2 separate regions of the Homo sapiens genome follow, and region 2 is linked to region 1. The links come from fine-mapping of genetic effects on gene expression. A gene starts in region 1. The other region holds a variant in brackets. All regions are shown on one strand. Distances are from middle to middle.

The links.
Region 2: its variant is fine-mapped to the expression of NFE4 in whole blood (TOPMed, PIP above 0.99).

The regions. Positions count from the first base shown.
Region 1 is chr7:102,969,526-102,977,858 of GRCh38, reverse strand. It overlaps NFE4 (nuclear factor, erythroid 4), which reads right to left and starts at 4,429. Exons shown (of 3, transcript NR_166512.1): 1 at 4,088-4,429. All of the region lies in intron 7 of FBXL13 (F-box and leucine rich repeat protein 13), which reads left to right. RefSeq lists silencers at 1,156-1,317, 3,888-4,058 and enhancers at 3,738-4,251, 3,709-4,908.
Region 2 is chr7:102,688,121-102,696,453 of GRCh38, reverse strand. It overlaps LOC124901713 (a long non-coding RNA gene), which reads right to left and starts at 7,467. Exons shown (of 2, transcript XR_007060461.1): 1 at 7,370-7,467; 2 at 4,845-7,175. It also overlaps the pseudogene RASA4DP. The variant C/T (reference allele first, on the strand shown) is at 3,171.

The sequences.
Region 1 (8,333 bases):
TTGGTTTTTGTCCTTGCGATAGTTTGCTGAGAATGATGGTTTCCAGCTTCATCCATGTCCCTACAAAGGACATGAACTCATCATTTTTTATGGCTGCATAGTATTCCATGGTGCATATGTGCCACATTTTCTTAATCCAGTCTATCATTGTTGGACATTTGGGTTGGTTCCAAGTCTTTGCTATTGTGAATAGTGCCACAATAAACATAGTTAACTGTAGCTTCAACAAGAGTTTTAATGGCTTTTATTATCAGTGGGATAACACGGGAGAAAAAGGAGGAGCCCAATGATGAAGATTACTGTCCTTATCAGCATTTTAAATCCTTCTAAATTAGAGAAACATCCTCCTAGAAGGTTTGCCAGGTCCCATCCTTTCCAGGTTTGGACTGGTACATGGGCTACTTTTCTGATGTTTGAAGCGATTTCTAGAACTGCTTTTCCATTATTGTCTATGTTAAGACAACAATTGGAGACATTAAAGTTACCACAGACTCCACCCTCTTCTGCTAATAAGTAGTCTAGTGCTAGCCTGTTTTGATAAATTGCCACGCACATTTGTTTTTGTCGTTGTGCGAGCATTTCCAGGACGGAGGCGGTTTGGTTAGTGATTATCTCTAGAACAGCCTGTAGCCTTAATTATTCTATTTAGCATATATATGGGAGTGCGATAACCCCATGAACCATCCTCCGCCCAAGTGGCAGGACCATAATATTCGATGATCCATTGCAGGGGCCACTCGTCCTCTTGCCGTCTTTGGCTTCCTCCTACCTTTAAGGATCGTTTTTCTCTGTTTAAGTGATCATACACAGGGACTCCATGGGTGTTGGGGTTTTCCCATGTAAAGGCAAAGAGGTTTTGGGAATCAGGGTGTAATGGAATTGTGAAAAAAGCATCCTTTAGGTCTAGAACAGAAAAATGGGTGGTATTGGAGGGAACTGCAGAAAGTAAAGTATATGGGTTAGGAGCTACTGGACATACTGGGAGTACAGCTTGGTTAATAAGCCTGAGGTCCTGGACTAAGCGATAAGTTCCATCTGGTTTTTTAACAGGTAGAATTGGTGTGTTAAAAGGGGAGTATGTTGGGCGGAGTAGGTGACTGGCGAGGAGGTGAGAAATGATAGGCGTTAGGCCTGTGAGAGCTGCTTGGGGGATGGGATACTGCTTCTGTGATAGGAACTGGGTGGGCTCTTTAAGGGTAATGTGGACGGACGGGAGTGTGGTGTTTTGCGACTGAGGGTGTGGAATTACCCCAAACAGGGGGGCTAACTACAGATGGGGGATAAGGAAAGGTTGCATGTTTTAAGGTGGGAGGTTGGAATAGAAGAAAGAAGCCCCAGAGGGGTTTGGGTTGATGCGTTGGGTATTATGGGGAACGTGGAAGTGGAGAGCAGTGTGGAGTTTTGAAAGGATGCCTTGGAGCGGAGTTGGGCATGAGGGCAGGACTAAGAAAGAGTGAGTGAAGGAAAAGGTGTGCAGGGAGCAGAAAAGTGGAGCGGGGGGCTCAGGGTTTGGAGGCTTGTTCATCAATTTCCACAATAGAGACTTGGGAGGACTGGGTGGGTCCTGAAAAATTAGGGAAAGCAGAATAGGTTGCCCTGGTATTAATTTTAAAAACATACTGGCCTACCTGCCACCATCAGGGTTACCCTTGGCTCAGATGAAGCGATGGTAGTTGCTGGGGTGTCTGTTCCAAGGCACTATCAGTCTTCAGCGGCAAGGCTGACGAGATCCGAGTAGGAGGGTTTGATTGGCTCAGGAAGGGATGGGGGTGGTCCTTGCAGGGGCCGCTCACAGTCCAACTTCCAGTGGGGTCCTCCGCAGAGGGGGCATGGCCTCGTGGGTTTACCTGGGTTTGGGCATTGTGTGGGCCAGTGGCCTTCATTGCCGCACTTGAAGCAGGCACCAGGTGGAGGTGGATTGCTAGGAGGCTTCTGTGTGGAGCTGTGGCCCCATGGCCTGCAGGGCCCCTGATGGAGGAGGCAAGCATTTGAAACCCTGCCTGTTTTTGCCTTTTACTTTCCTCATCACGATTGTTAAAGACTTTGAAGGCTAAATTAAGAAAGTCTCGTTGTGGGGTTTGAGGGCTGTTGTCAAGTTTTTGAAGCTGGCGCTGAATATTGGGGGTGGATTGGGAGATGAACTGAAGGTTTAAAATATCGGTTCCTTCTGGACTGGCTAGGTCTAGGTTGGTATATTTTCTCATGGCTTCAGTTAAACGAGAGATAAAAAGGGCTGGGTTTTCGTTAGGACCTTGGGTGATTTCTGAAAGTTTTTCATAGTTTACCACTTTATGGGCAGCCTTTTTGAGTCCTGCAAGGAGGCACACAATCATGTGGTCTCGACAGCAGCGTCCAGAGGCCCCATCTTGATAATCCCAGTGGGGGTCCTGGTTGGGGACTGCCTTTGCACCAGTAGGCTGAGCAGGAGCTTGGTGATGAATTGTATCAGCATGTACCTGAGTTAGGGTCCAGATACAGCCCCAGTCTTCTGGGGTGAGGGTGGAAGAGAGGATAATGTAGAGGTCATGCCAAGTTAGTTCATAAGACTGGGTGAGGTACTGAAACTCTCTAATGTAAGAGGTAGGGTCTTCTGGAAATGAACTGAGTCTTTTGTTAATTTGAGAGAGATCACTGAGGGAGAGGGGAACATAAACTTTAACAATGCCTCCAGTTCCTGCTACTTTCTGAAGGGGGCTCTCTAGCACAGGGGCTGAACTAAGGGTGGGGCATGGGCCAAAGATGGTGCCTGAGCGAGTATGGGTGGGAGAGAAGGAAGAACCTGAAAGTGGTTCCTGCTGAGGGTTTGAAGGGGGAAGGAGGGTTAAGTTGATAGGCAGTGGAGGATAGATAGGGGCGTAAGGTGGTGGGATGGGTTTACAGGCTTCAGGAGAGGGCAGTGAGGAAGGAGAATGAGTAATGAGTACAGACAATGCTAGAATTGTCCTGAGGAGAGGACAGTGTAGGAAAAGAAGTGGATACTGCTGCTTGGGAAGATGGGGGCTGGGAAGATGGCGACTGGGAAGATGAAGGCTGAGAAGATCGCAGCTGAGAAGATAAAGAGGAGGCTTAGGGGGTTAAAGAAGACGGCTGAGAGGGAGAGGCAGGGGCTGAGAGGAATGGACAGCAGTCTGCTGGATCTAACGAGGAAAATATGTCGAGTTGGGAGGAGAAAGGTGATCTGGGTGGCGAGAATAGAGGAGGATTTGAACAGGTGAGCAAGAATTACAGAGGTCGGGTTGTGATCTGAGTGCAAACAGGGCTGGACATAAGGAGTTTTTCCCCATTTCTCCAGTCGTCAGCAATAATTGCTTAAATCAGTTAAAATTGTAAAGTCGAATGTTCTATTTGCGGGCCATTAGGACCCATTATTCAATTCGTATTGTGGCCAGTCTGAATTGCAAAAAAAGACAAGGAGGATGGATATCTTGCCTGAGGCCTAAGGTTTGCAGGTTTTTGTTTGTTTGTTTGTTTTACGGACTCTCACTCTGTCGCCCAGGCTGGAGTGCAGTGGTGTGATCTTGGCTCACTGCAAGCTCTGCCTCCCGGGTTCACACCATTCTCCTGCTTCAGCCTCCTGAGTAGCTGGGACTACAGGTGCCTGCCACCATGCCCGGCTAATTTTTTGTATTTTTAGTAGAGCCAGGGTTTCACCGTGTTAGCCAGGATAGTCTTGACCTCCTGACCTGGTGATCCGCCCACCTCACCCTCGCAAAGTGCTAGGATTACAGGCATGAGCCACCGCACCTGGCCAGGTTTACAGGTTTTTTATGAGGCAGCCTAGAGGGCTGTTTTTTGGAATTGAGGATGGGGAGTTTCCCATAACTGAGGGTAGGCTCGGGAAAACAGGGAAAAAGGAGACCATCCTGGATGGTGGAGGGAGACGATGAAAGGAGCGATCGTCACCGCTGCCTTTTTCGTTCCCGGAACGGGATCAAATGGCTTAGAGGCGTCCCCCTAAGACCAGATGATCAGCAAGTACCTGGCACACGTCGGAGCCTTCTTGGACCAATGTTGGATTTTCAGACTGGAGAAACCAAGAGAGGCTGTATGGATTTTTCCTTGTTAACCGGGCTCCCGGGAAACTTACCAGTAGGTGAGATCAGTGACTGATGTGCATGCACAGAGAAGCAACTGGAGGCTGAGGAGCTTCCTTTGTCCGGCTGCTGTGGCCTGCTTTCTGGGGCGGAGGGGTAGGTCCACGGGGGACGAAGACCGGAGCCCCTCCCGGGTTTCGGCACCAGATGAAAGATTCTTGTATCCGTTCAAACTCTTGAGAGTGTGCCAACAGACAACACGAGGCAGTGTGGAGCAACCTGCTGTTTTAATGAGCGCCTGGGTGCAGGCAGGCTAAGGCCTAAAATGGCGTCAGCACCAAATGAGTAGGGGGCAGGGTTTTATAGTCTTCCGTAAACAGGAATTGTCCCAGTCTGATGTAACTGCTATGTGGTACCCAGATGGCCTGTTTCTCGATCTTCAGGGGTACGTGTCTTCCGGCCAGGGTAGGTGTCTTCTGGCCGGCTCTCTTCCTGCTTCTGCTATCTTGCTGACTCACGCTGCTGGTACAAGTGGCCTTGTGCCTTGGGACTGGGCCTGAGAAGAGAGGAGTTACTCATTCCTTCAAGCTTTCGGGCGTTGGGGAGAATCTTTCAAAAACAAAATGAACACAAATGAAAGGAAGGCTGATAACCATCATTTTACTCGTTACTTCCGTAAGTCCAACATTTTAAAATTTCACATAGAAGTGAAATCATGGAGAATTTGTCTTTCCGTGCCTGAAAGTGTAGATTTTAAATGTTTTCTTCACACACAAAAATGATAATTATGTGAGGTGGTGATTTCTTAATTATTAACCTGATTTAATCATTCCACATTATAAACATAAATCAAAACATCACATTTTAACCATAAATGCATTTTAATTATTATTTGTCAATTAAAAATAAAACTAAGAAAAGAAAATAGATAGCTACATTAATATTGGGGGAAAAACATTAAAGCAAAAAGCATTTTTAGGAATAAAAAATTTTTGTCTTCTAACCAATACATTTTGTTAAATTTATTATGATTATTGATATACTTGGGTTCATTTTTCTAATTTCATTTTATACTATTTATTATCTTTTTATTTATTATTTATTATCTTTTTATATGTTTTATTTTTCCCCTTTCCTGACTTTATTGAATTTTTAAAAAATAAAAACGTTTAAAGTAATTTCAATAGCTTCTGGGATAGATGTGGTTTTTGGTTACATTGATGAATGGTATAGTGGTGAAGTCAGATTTTAGCGCACCCATTACCAAGTAGTGTACTATTTATTGAGTATTTAAATCTACCCCCTTTTTTCTACTTTCATGTTTTAGATGATATACATTCTATTTCTATGATTTTACTGGTTACTCTTAAATATTTTTAACATGTTGTAGAAGATAACCATTCTATTTCTACTATTTTACTGGTTACTCAAATATTTTTAATGTGTACATTTATTAATAAGGCCTAAAGTAAATTAATATTTATACTTTCTTCTTGAAGAATAATTGAAATTTAGAACACTAACTCTTGATTACTCTCTCTGGTGTTAGAGTGTTATTATTATCTAGTGTTTTTGTTCCATCTTATTGTTCTACCCCCACGTTTTCATCATGATACTGTTTTATAAAGTTAATGGCTTTACCCATATACTTATTAGATTTTTTGCCCATTGTTATTATTTGCATTTCATGCCTTTCTTCTGATTTCAGTGTTCTTTAGAAGTTCCTTTGTGAAGGGTCCATTGGAAGCAAACTCTCAGTCTATGTCTCAAAGTGTCTTTAAATTTTTTTTTTTTTTTTTGAGATGGACTCTCACTCTGTCTCCCAGGCTGGAATGCAGTGGCACAATCTTGGCTCACTGCAACCTCTGCCTCCCTGGTTCAAGCGATTTTCCTGCCTTAGCCTCCCAAGTAGCTGGGATTACAGGTGCATGCCACCACACCCAGCTAATTTTTGTATTTTTAGTAGAGATGGGGTTTTGCCATGTTGGCCAGGCTGGTCTCGAACTTCTGACCTCAGGTGATCCGCCCACCTTGGCTTTCCAAAGTGCTGGGATTACGGGCATGAGCCACTGTGCCTGGCCTTAAATTTTTTAGAGACAGAGTCTTGCTATGTTACCCAGGCTGGCCTTCAATTCTTGGGCTCAGGTAATCTTGCCTCAGCCTCTCAAGTAGCTGGGACTACAGGTGTACTACCATGCCTGGCAAAAAATGTCTTTTTTTTTTTTTTTTTGAGACGGAGTTTCGCTCTTATTGCCTAGGCTGGAGTGCAATGGCACAATCTTGGCTCACCGCCACCTCCGCCCGGGTTCAAGCGATTCTCCTGCCTCAGCCTCCCAAGTAGCTGGGATTACAGGCATGTGCCACCACGCCTGGCTAATTTTGTGTTTTTAGTAGAGAGGGGGTTTCTTCATCTTGGTCAGGCTGGTCTCGAACGCCCAACCTTAGGTGATCTGCCTGCCTCAGCCTCCCAAAGTGCTGGGATTACAGGTGTGAGCCACTGCACTCAGCCAAAAATGTCTTAATACTCATTTTTGAGTTGTAATTTACTTGCATATGGTATCTCAGATTGATAGTTTCTGCTGACTTCCACCTTATGTTGTTCTGTCTACGTGACAGTCTTTTGTACGTAATCTGTGTCAAATTGCCTGAAAAATTTTCCTGTGCTTTGGCCTTTTGCAGTTTCACTTATAATGCCATTGATATATTTTCATTTTCCTGCTTGGAACTTCCTGTGCTTTTTGAATCTGAAAAGTGTTGCCTTTCATCAGTTCTAAAACATTTTAGTCTGTGGTATTTTTAAATTTTGCTTTGATTTTATTCTCTTTATTCCCTCCTGGAAATTCTGTAAAGATGTGTGTTGGACCTTTTCATGTTATGTAATGTGTCTCTTAGCATCCTTTATATTTTTCATCTCTTTATTTCTCTACATTTTATCCTGTGTAATTTCTTCAGGTACATATTCATTTGTTGATTCTCTTCTTAGCTGAGTCGCATCTGCTATTTAACTCACCCACTGAGTTTTAAATTTCAATAACTATATTTTTAATTTTCATGATTTTATTTGGTTCTTTTACAGATCTTCCCAGTCCTGTTTTGACAACATTTGTCTCAAGAGTTTTATTTTTCTTTTTATGTCTTCATCACTTTAAAGGTTTCTTTTGAATCTTGTTGGACTTCCTTTTCCTCGTGTGTTTTGCAGTTTTTGATTGGGAGCTTGTTTTTGGAGGGCTTAATCCATGGGTATCCTGTAAGGCCTGGCTTGACTGTGTCTGTCTCTTTAGAGAGAATGATATTTATTTCTGCCAAATGTCCCAGAGTTATTACCAGTGGAACCTCTTTGCACATTAATATATCAAATCCATTTACAAAGGTAACAAATTCAAATTGGATCCCAGGCATGATGAAATTTAAATCCCAACACACATAATCGCTGGCCTTTGGTTACAAACTCTTTTTTTCTTTTCATTCATTTTTTTAAAAAAAATGAATTTATTATTATTTCTGTTTAACCCAAACCAAAAATGGTCAATATGGTTACAAATTCTTTGAGAGATTTTATTTTATTTTATTTTTTGAGACAGAGTCTTGCTCTGTTGCCCAGGCTGGAGTGCAGTCGCATGACCATGGCTTACTGCAGCCGCAGCCTCCCAGGCTCAAACAATTCTCCCGTCTCAGCCTCTAGAGTAGCTAGGACTATAGGTGTGCACCACCATATATGACTAATTTTTAAATTTTTAGTTGAAATGGGGTTTCACTATGTTGCCCAGGCTAGTCTTGAACTCCTGGGCTCAAGCAAGCCTCCCACCTCAGCCTCCTAAAGTGCTGGAATTATAGGTGTGAGCCACTGTGCCTGGCGAGAGATCTTTTTGATACCAGGCTAGATACCTTAGTTTTTCTTTTGCCAGTATGGTTGATTTCTTTTCTTTTCTTTTCTTTTTTCTTTTCTTTCCTTTTCTTTTCTTTTCTTTTCCCTCCCCTCCCCTCCCCTCCCCTCCCCTCTCCTCCCTTTCCTTTCCCTTCCCCTTTTTGGACAGAGTCTTGCTCTATTGCCCAGGCTGGAGTGCAGTGGTCCAATCTCAGCTCACTGCAACCTCCACCTCCTGGGTTCAAGCAGTTCTCCTGCCTCAGCCTCCCGAGTAGCTGGGATTACAGACGTGTGCAATAATTTTTGTATTTTTAGTAGAGACAGGGTTTCACCATGTTGGCCAGGCTGGTCTTGAACTCCTGACCTCAAGCAATCCACCTGCCTCGACCTTCCAAAGTGCTGGGATTACAGGCGTGATTTCTTTCTGTTTCATA
Region 2 (8,333 bases), 280 kb after region 1:
CAGCAGAGGTTCTGATCCTTGTGGAGCAGGGATACCCCATAGGCAGTGTACCTGGAATAGGAGCTCAGAGGCAGTTCTGCACTCAAATTTATATCCACTTTTAATTAGATGCAAATTAAGGACTGGTTTATGCAGAAATTTCTAGAATGAGGTTGGTAACTTGCAGGTTGTCGGGTTGATGCCATGGAAAGGGGCAGTAACTTCCTGATGTTACCATGGCAACAGTAAACTAACATGGCACACTGGTGTCTAATGGGGGAGGTGCTTCTGCCTCAGACCTCTTTTAGCTAGTCCTCAATTTGGTGTGATGTCCAAGCCCCACCTCCAAAGTCGAGTTCTGCCTCCTACCTCACTACTGTGTAAATATACCATAATTTGTTGATCCATTCTATTTTGTTTATAAAAATGGATTATTTCCTGTTTTGAAGATAATGAATAAAGTTCTGTGATCATTCTTATGCATGCCTTGTACTTAAGAATGAACTTATCTTGGGTATATACACAGGAGTGGGGTTAATCTGTCATAGTCTAGGTTTATATTCAGCTTTAGTAAAGACCTTCAATCAGTTTTCCAAAGAGGTTGAACCAGCATACACTCCAATGGGTATTATGTTAGATGCTGTCACATGTCCAGGGTTAATACAAGTGATAGCTTTCACGGTATTCCCTAGTTAGGATTTCTACTTCTATCTGTATGTGCTTATGTAAAACAGCACTGATTTATAAATGTGGCCTCACTTGTCAAGGGTCAGTGTGTCAGATGCTGAACTTTTCCACGACTTGGAGGCCGTAAAATCATTTTTGTCTTAATGCTGTGAGCCAAAATCAAAACATTAAATTATTTCGCCTAAGCGAAATAATTGGCTCTTTGCTTTTTACCAAGAGCCAGGCATCTCCTCCCTTCTCTTTATTTCCTGAAAATAATTATTGTTCCAATCATTGTTAAGTAAGTCTTTGACCTGACTTAGCCAAGGGGTGGAAAAAAGGAGGCATAGGAGCATTGCATTTGGGAGGCATAAAAGGGAGAACAAACATTGTAGGGAAACACCGAGGAAGTAAAACTACGAATCAAAATAGAATATGAAACTAAAAGTAGAGTGTGGATGTGTACCAATCATCATGGGCAATGATGAAGATGGATTAAGTTTGTTAATATATGACCTTTTCACGAAAACAGGTTATATATAAAACTATGAGTGGTTGTACTTCTTACAAAATATGTAATAGCAGCATTTGTGTCCAAGTTTCAGTTGCATGTCAGATTTGGTGAGTATTAAGATGTCAAGAACCTTGTGAACAATAATTTTGGACATTAAGTCTTAATCTATTTAAAAGATAAAAGATACAGCATTCACTATGTGCCAGGCACTGTGCTAGATGTTTATAATTATTATTACTAAAGCTACTGAAATTCATCCCTTCAACTCCTCCTTGGTTTTGAGCACCTCCTGTGTGCTGGATTATGCTAGATACCATGAGAATTTATGGACATAAAGCATAAAAAGGTTCCTATTCTTTAGAAGCATTATTTGTGAACAAGAAGATTGAAATATTAAATGTCAACAAAAGGCATATGATTTTGGACCCAGAGGATACAAGCAGTGTTATCAGAAGGGAAAGGGAGGCTTGACTGCTGTGGGATGAGACGGTCTAGAAAGGCTTTTAAGGCAGTAAGACATGAAAGGGGATATTGCATCCATATACACAGGGTCCACTATGAATCTGGTTTCTTTGCCCATACCCATGTATGCACATACTTGGAATATCTTCATGTAGATGACCCCAAAGTACCTCAAACTAAACATACTCACAACTAAATCCATTATCCTTCTCCGGAACCGAACTCTGCTCCTGGGTTCTGTCAGTTGGTTCTCTCTTGTTAATATCTCTTGAATTTGTGTTTTCCATTCCTACCATCTCACCAGTTAGAATGCCGTTTCAGTGATGAAGATGTGAAGAGAGACTGCACAGTGGCATTGGCAATGAGGAAAAAAGGAGTGAATACATTTAGGAGAGATGTTAAGGAAGTATAAAATTCTATAGACTTAGTGTCTGAGTGGATGGAGTGGGTGAGGAAAAGATTCTAAATTGATGCTTGGCATTCTGATTTAGGAAATCAGCCAAATTATGGCACCATACATGAGAGTTCAGAAGAAGCAACAGGTCTGAAGGGAATGTCCAGTATGTGGATCTGAGCCTATGGGGGAAGTCTCTGGCCAGAGGTGTAGTAGACACGGTAGGTTGTTGATATAGTAATCAGAATGCTTTCTGAAAGAATTGCAACTTGATACCTATGTATATTTAACAACACGGTCTACCACTGTGTATTTAAAAAAAGATGCTGCCATTGTTTACCTAATTTCATACTTGTAAAATTATCTTTTTTTATGAGGATATTCACATATTCAAAAGATGCTTTATTTTCTATATATTTTGTTCTCTTAAGGCTGGTACCAGATAAATAAATGTTGGTTTTTTAAATAAATTTCTTTGATGTAAAGTCTGTCTCTGTTGCCCAGACTGAAGTGCAGTGACACAATCTCAGCTCACTGCAACTTCTACCTTCTGGGCTCAAGCAATCCTCCCACCTCAGCCCCTGGAGTAGCTGGGACCACAGACACATAACACCAGGCCTGGCTGATTTTTGTATTTTATGTAGAGATAGAGTTTCACCATGTTGTCCAGGCTGGTCTCAAACTCCCGGGCTCAAGTGATCTACCCACCTCGGCCTCTCAAAATGCTGGGATTACAGGTGTAAACCCCTGCACCTGGCCTAAAATTAAACTAAAGTTTTAATTACTGAAAGTATCGGTGATTTGCTGACGCTACTAAAGCTTCATTTATTTTGTAGGTTGGACCTTCTATAGAGTTACTAATGAGCTTCTTGAGATAATCCCTAATGACATTTCAATTTTTTTCGAGGAATTAAATATTTTCTATTTTTTTATACCTTAAGTAACTGGTTATAAAGGGGAAAAGATAAGAACCCCACCCTCAAGGAGCTTACGAAGTAGTTTCAAGTATGTAAACTTACTTTTCAGAATGATTCTGTAATAGGAGGTTTGAGATATTGCTATTTCCATCTTAAAGATTCTGGAAGATTGAGACTCGCCCTGGGTTACACATCGGGGTGGAATTTGGAACCCAATCTTCCGTTTCCTGCTTCAGCG[C/T]GCATTTCACTTGACATTCACACATTTAAACACTGCTATTTTAGGTTTTACAATTTGACTTTTAAAGTAGACTGTGTATTAAAACAAAGATAACTATGTACACTCTGTTTAAATATTTCTAGTATGTTTCCCCATCCTCTCCTTAGTTATCACCCCTCACTAACAGCTGTACTTATAGGCTGTGCTTTAAAAAATGACCAATTTTCTTTTATAAACCTTCCTGCAAATCTTGCTATTATTGACATGTTTTCGCTTTTCCTTCAGACATCTAGGCACCCTTGCAAGAATAATAATTTTTCAAGATTTTCCTTGGCTGTCAAGAATCTTCAAAGAGACGGATAGTTTATTGAACAGTACAGATAGGTTCTATTGTTCCCATATTTTTGTTATTATTGTTTTTACTCTGACAGTGGGGTGGAAATTTAAAAACTTTTCCAGTATGGAAGAAGACCTTGTAATGCACTTAAATATTTGAGATATCAACATAACTAAATCCATTTACAAAGATTGAATATTGATGCTAAGATTATAAGAATACAGGCCATATTCCACTTTGCAAAGTAGATTAATACCCCTCAATTCAGTTAAATGGTACACTGCAGAAGAGGTCAGGGTAAGAGGAAAGAAGGCACTGTGTTAGGATGTCCTCCTCTTGGCATCTTTAAAATGACAAACATGGAGATTGATTTTGGCCAGGAATCTGGGGTATTGTCAGAACAACTCTATTTGAACAAGCTGTGCTTAGTGGTAAGAGGGAGTCAGAAGGATGTTGAAAAGGGGACAGAGAAGAAGAAAGATAAAGAAAAATTGGTCCTTTACCTCCTCACATACAATCTGTGAGATTATCTTCCTTAACTCATTCTGAAAAATCTTTCCTGAGCATCTACAATATGCCAAACCCAAGGCTAGGAATGGGAGGAAAACGCAGCAGTGGCCCTACCCTCAGTGGCCCATCTGTCCCTCTGTTTGTGTGGTTTATTTGCCTCTCTTCTCCTTTATCCTTTTCTAGTTCTTTACTGACATAATGAGATCCTAGTTTGTATGTGTATGTGCATGTGTTTAATTACATAGTTAATACATTTTAATCACCTCTTTATTTTTCATTGATTGTTAACTACTGTTGTAGCAACTTGATTAAATATTAAAAATAATAATCTAAACTTTGATACTGGCTTTCTAAATAGTCGCTGAACGGATGTTGCTCTTCAAAATAAGTACTAGGAGAAATAATAGTATTTTCTCCTTTGAGAGAAGGTTGGCTTTGGAAAGCTCGTGGCTCTTAGGTGAATGTGCATCTTGTAAAACAGTCTCTTTAGTAATGCAATCACTATTTTAATACATTGGGGACTAAAGATGGAAGCTTAAGGATTAAAATAAAATACCTTTTTCAACAAAAAATGTATTAATATATAGGTAGAGAGAGGGTACTGTTGTCTGTTGGGTAGATTCCTTGGCAAATAAACAGAAGGGAGTAGGATTGGGAATTTGTCCATCTGGTAACCAGACTTACAGGTAAATCAGTAAAATGAGTTAGCAGGAGTCAACCCAGTAAAGTTAGCTAAGACAAGACAATTACTAAAGTTTTCATTAGGCAAGCAAGATCAGGTTCTCAATGGTCAAGCAGTGAGATGCAAGCCAGACTAGGAAGTTAAGGAACAGAGTATCAGGGAATCATAAGAAAATTGTAATAAAATTTATTCAGCCATGGGGCTAGTTTTATTTATATAAAGCTATTTTAATATATAAAATATATACATAGTACAAAATCCAGAAGGTGCAGAATAGTAAACAACGAAAAGTCAGCCTTCTACCCCATTATACAATCTAAACTCCCCCTCCCAAGAGACAACCATAATTAACAATCTTTTATATAGCCTTGTAGAACATCTATGCACAAAGAAGTAAGTCGTAGTATAATATACACACTGTTTTTTTCACATATTTATACAATTTTTATTTTTTCAATGTATAGTATTTCAAGGCATGAATGGAACATGCTTTTTAAAACTAGTTCCTTATTATGAGACATTTAGGTCATTTCCAATCATCTGCTATTACAGATAATGATAGAGTGACTAACTTTATACATGCATCATTTAATACTGGAGTAGTCACTGAGCTTCAGAGAGAGCGACAGAGGGGGCTGGGACTTCGACTCCAGTGTTCTATCTCCATATTCAGAGCCCTTTAAGGTTAAGAATGTGGCTGGGCATAGTGGCTCATGCCTGTAATTGCAGCACTTTGGGAGGCTGAGGCGGGCGGATCACTTAAGGTCAGGAGTTCGAGACCAGCCTGGCCAACATGGCGAAACCCCATCTCTACTAAAAATACAAAAATTAGCCTGGCATGGTGGTGGGCACCTGTAATCCCAGCTACTGGGGAGGCTGAGGCAGGAGACTCACTTGAACCAGGAGCCAGAGGTTGTAGTGAGCTCACGCCACTGCACTCTAGCCTGGGCCCCGTGCTAGACTCCGTGCCCCGCACCCCCCCCCAAAGAGAATGTGTGTGTGATTAAAATTTAAGTTAGAGACAGTCTCACTATGTTGCCCAGGCTGGTCTCAAACTCCTGGCCTCAAGTGATCCTCCTGCCTTGGCCTCCCAAAGTGCTAGGATTACAAGGGCTAAGAATTCTAGTCATTCATTCACTCACTCATTCATTCATTCATGAATAAACAGTTTGCCCTGCATGTGTACCTGGCCCCCTCCTGGGCGGATACGGCAGGCAAACGGTGCAAGGGCGGCTGCCGGGAGAAGGTGGGCAGCTGGAGTGGGACTGGGGGAGACAGGATCAATGTGACCTGCGGTGGTCCCCAGGTGGCCGGGATGCAGTACCTGCACGGCGTCCTGGGCCCCATCATCAACAAGGTGTTTGAGGAGAAGAAGTACGTGGAGCTGGACCCCAGCAAAGTGGAAGTTAAGGATGTAGGGTGAGGCCGGGGGTAACTCCGGGGGTTGCGGGGTGCAGCGGCAGCGGGTTGGGATCAGGCCCTGTCAGCATGTGTGTTTGTGCTTCTGCCCACCCGTGTATTGTCCCCTGTGTCCGTGTCCTGGCTGCTGTGAGAGCCACTGTTCCTGTCGTGGCCCTGGCGCTGACCGCGACCTCCTCTGCCAACCCGCCCCGTTCCACGCAGGTGCTCCAGGCTGCACCGCCCGCAGACCGAGGCCGAGGTGCTGGAGCAGAGCGCGCAGACGCTGCGCGCCCACCTGGGGGCCCTGCTGAGCGCGCTCAGCCGCTCGGTTCGCGCGTGCCCCGCCGTGGTGCGCGCCACCTTCCGCCAGCTCTTCCGGCGCGTGCGCGAGCGCTTCCCCGGCGCCCAGCACGAGGTGCGCCCTCCACCCGCTGGGCTAGGCTGGGCCGGGTTGGACTGGGCTGGGGCGAGGAGTGAAGAGCGGTGGGGAACCAGGGAGCGCTGGGGAGGACCAGGGAGGCTGTGTCGCAGCGAGGGTCAGGGACAGAGCCTAAGGGGAGGGGGCTGCCAGGAGCCCTGGTCTGGGGGACTCCAGCCCGCGCTCTTCCGCACCCCTCCAGAATGTACCGTTCATCGCCGTCACCAGCTTCCTGTGCCTGCGCTTCTTCTCCCCCGCCATCATGTCGCCCAAGCTCTTCCACCTGCGGGAGCGCCACGCGGACGCCCGCACCAGCCGCACCCTGCTCCTGTTGGCTAAGGTGCGGGCCTTGCGGCCACGGGCGGGATGCACAGCTGGGTGTCCTACCGGGGCCCTGGCCTGGACTGCAGAGTGTTCCCTACCGGCTCCGGCGAGGCCACTGGCACGCCCACGTAGGCACTGCACTTCACAGTTTGCAAAGCCTTCCTGTGGCCACCTTGTCCGAGCTCCATCTCATGGATAAGGGAACAGGCCTGCGAGGGGTCGGGGGTTGCCAAGGCCGCCCATCCTGTCGGTGGTGAATCGCGGGACCTTCCAACCCGGGTCTGCTTACTCTCAGGCTGCACCTATGTGCCCGGCACCGGGGTGGGGTATCCAGTGCAGCAGCGTCAGTTAAACCTACAGAGGAAGGCCCAAGTGGTCTCAGTTATCATAAGGCATCAAACTTCATGATCCTCTCCTCCCTGATCCCTAGTGGGGCTGGAGGGGGCCCGTGGGCATGGCCTCTGTCGCCTCTGCCTCCATCGCTACAGCTGAGTAGCAAAGACTTGGGGAGGGGGGGTGGGAGGGGGTGCAGTGGCTAGGCCCCTAACCTAGCAGAACCTGGTCCTTCCTGCTGTCACCTCCAGGCAGTCCAGAACGTGGGCAACATGGACACGCCGGCTTCCAGGGCCAAGGAGGCTTGGATGGAGCCGCTGCAGCCCACCGTGCGCCAGGGCGTGGCGCAGCTGAAGGACTTCATCACCAAGCTCGTGGACATCGAGGAGAAGGACGGTGAGCGCCGCCCTGCACAGACCCGCCCACAGCCTACTGCTGACGTTTGCTCCGCCCTTGAGCCCCACGGCCCCACCCATCGCTGTTTGTTCCTCTCGTGGCCCCACCCACCGCCTGCTGTTGGCATTTGCCAGGCCCCCAGGCCATAGACCCACGCACCACTGTTTGTGCTTCCTGTGACCCTGCCCACTGCCTGCCGTTGACGTTTGCCCCACCCCTAGACCCATGGCCTCACCCCCGCATCATCTGCGCCTGTTGACATTTGCTCCATCCTTGAGCTCCATAGCCCCGCCGCCACCTGCTACTGACGCGTGTCCCGCCTCCAAGCCCATGGCCCTGCCTTCCTCAGTCCACCTGTCACCCCGCTCACCACCAGCTGTTGATGTTTGCTCCGCCCTTGAGCCCCATGACTACGTCCACTGCCTGCTGTTCAGATTTGCTCAGCCCTTGAGCCCCATGGCCCCTCCCACTGCTCCGCTCCCCCCAGTCCCGCCCTCATTCACTGGGCTCTCTATTCCCCTCCCTCCCTGGCCTGGCAGAGCTGGACCTGCAGCGGACGCTGAGTTTGCAGGCGCCACCTGTGAAGGAGGGGCCACTCTTCATCCACAGGACCAAGGGCAAGGGCCCCCTCATGTCCTCCTCCTTCAAGAAGCTCTACTTCTCCCTCACTACCGAGGCCCTCAGCTTCGCGAAGACGCCCAGCTCCAAGGTGGGTAAGGAGGGAGGCCGGCAAGTGGGGCTCTGAGAGGCCGGCAAGTGGGGCACCTGTCCCCTTCCTTGGAG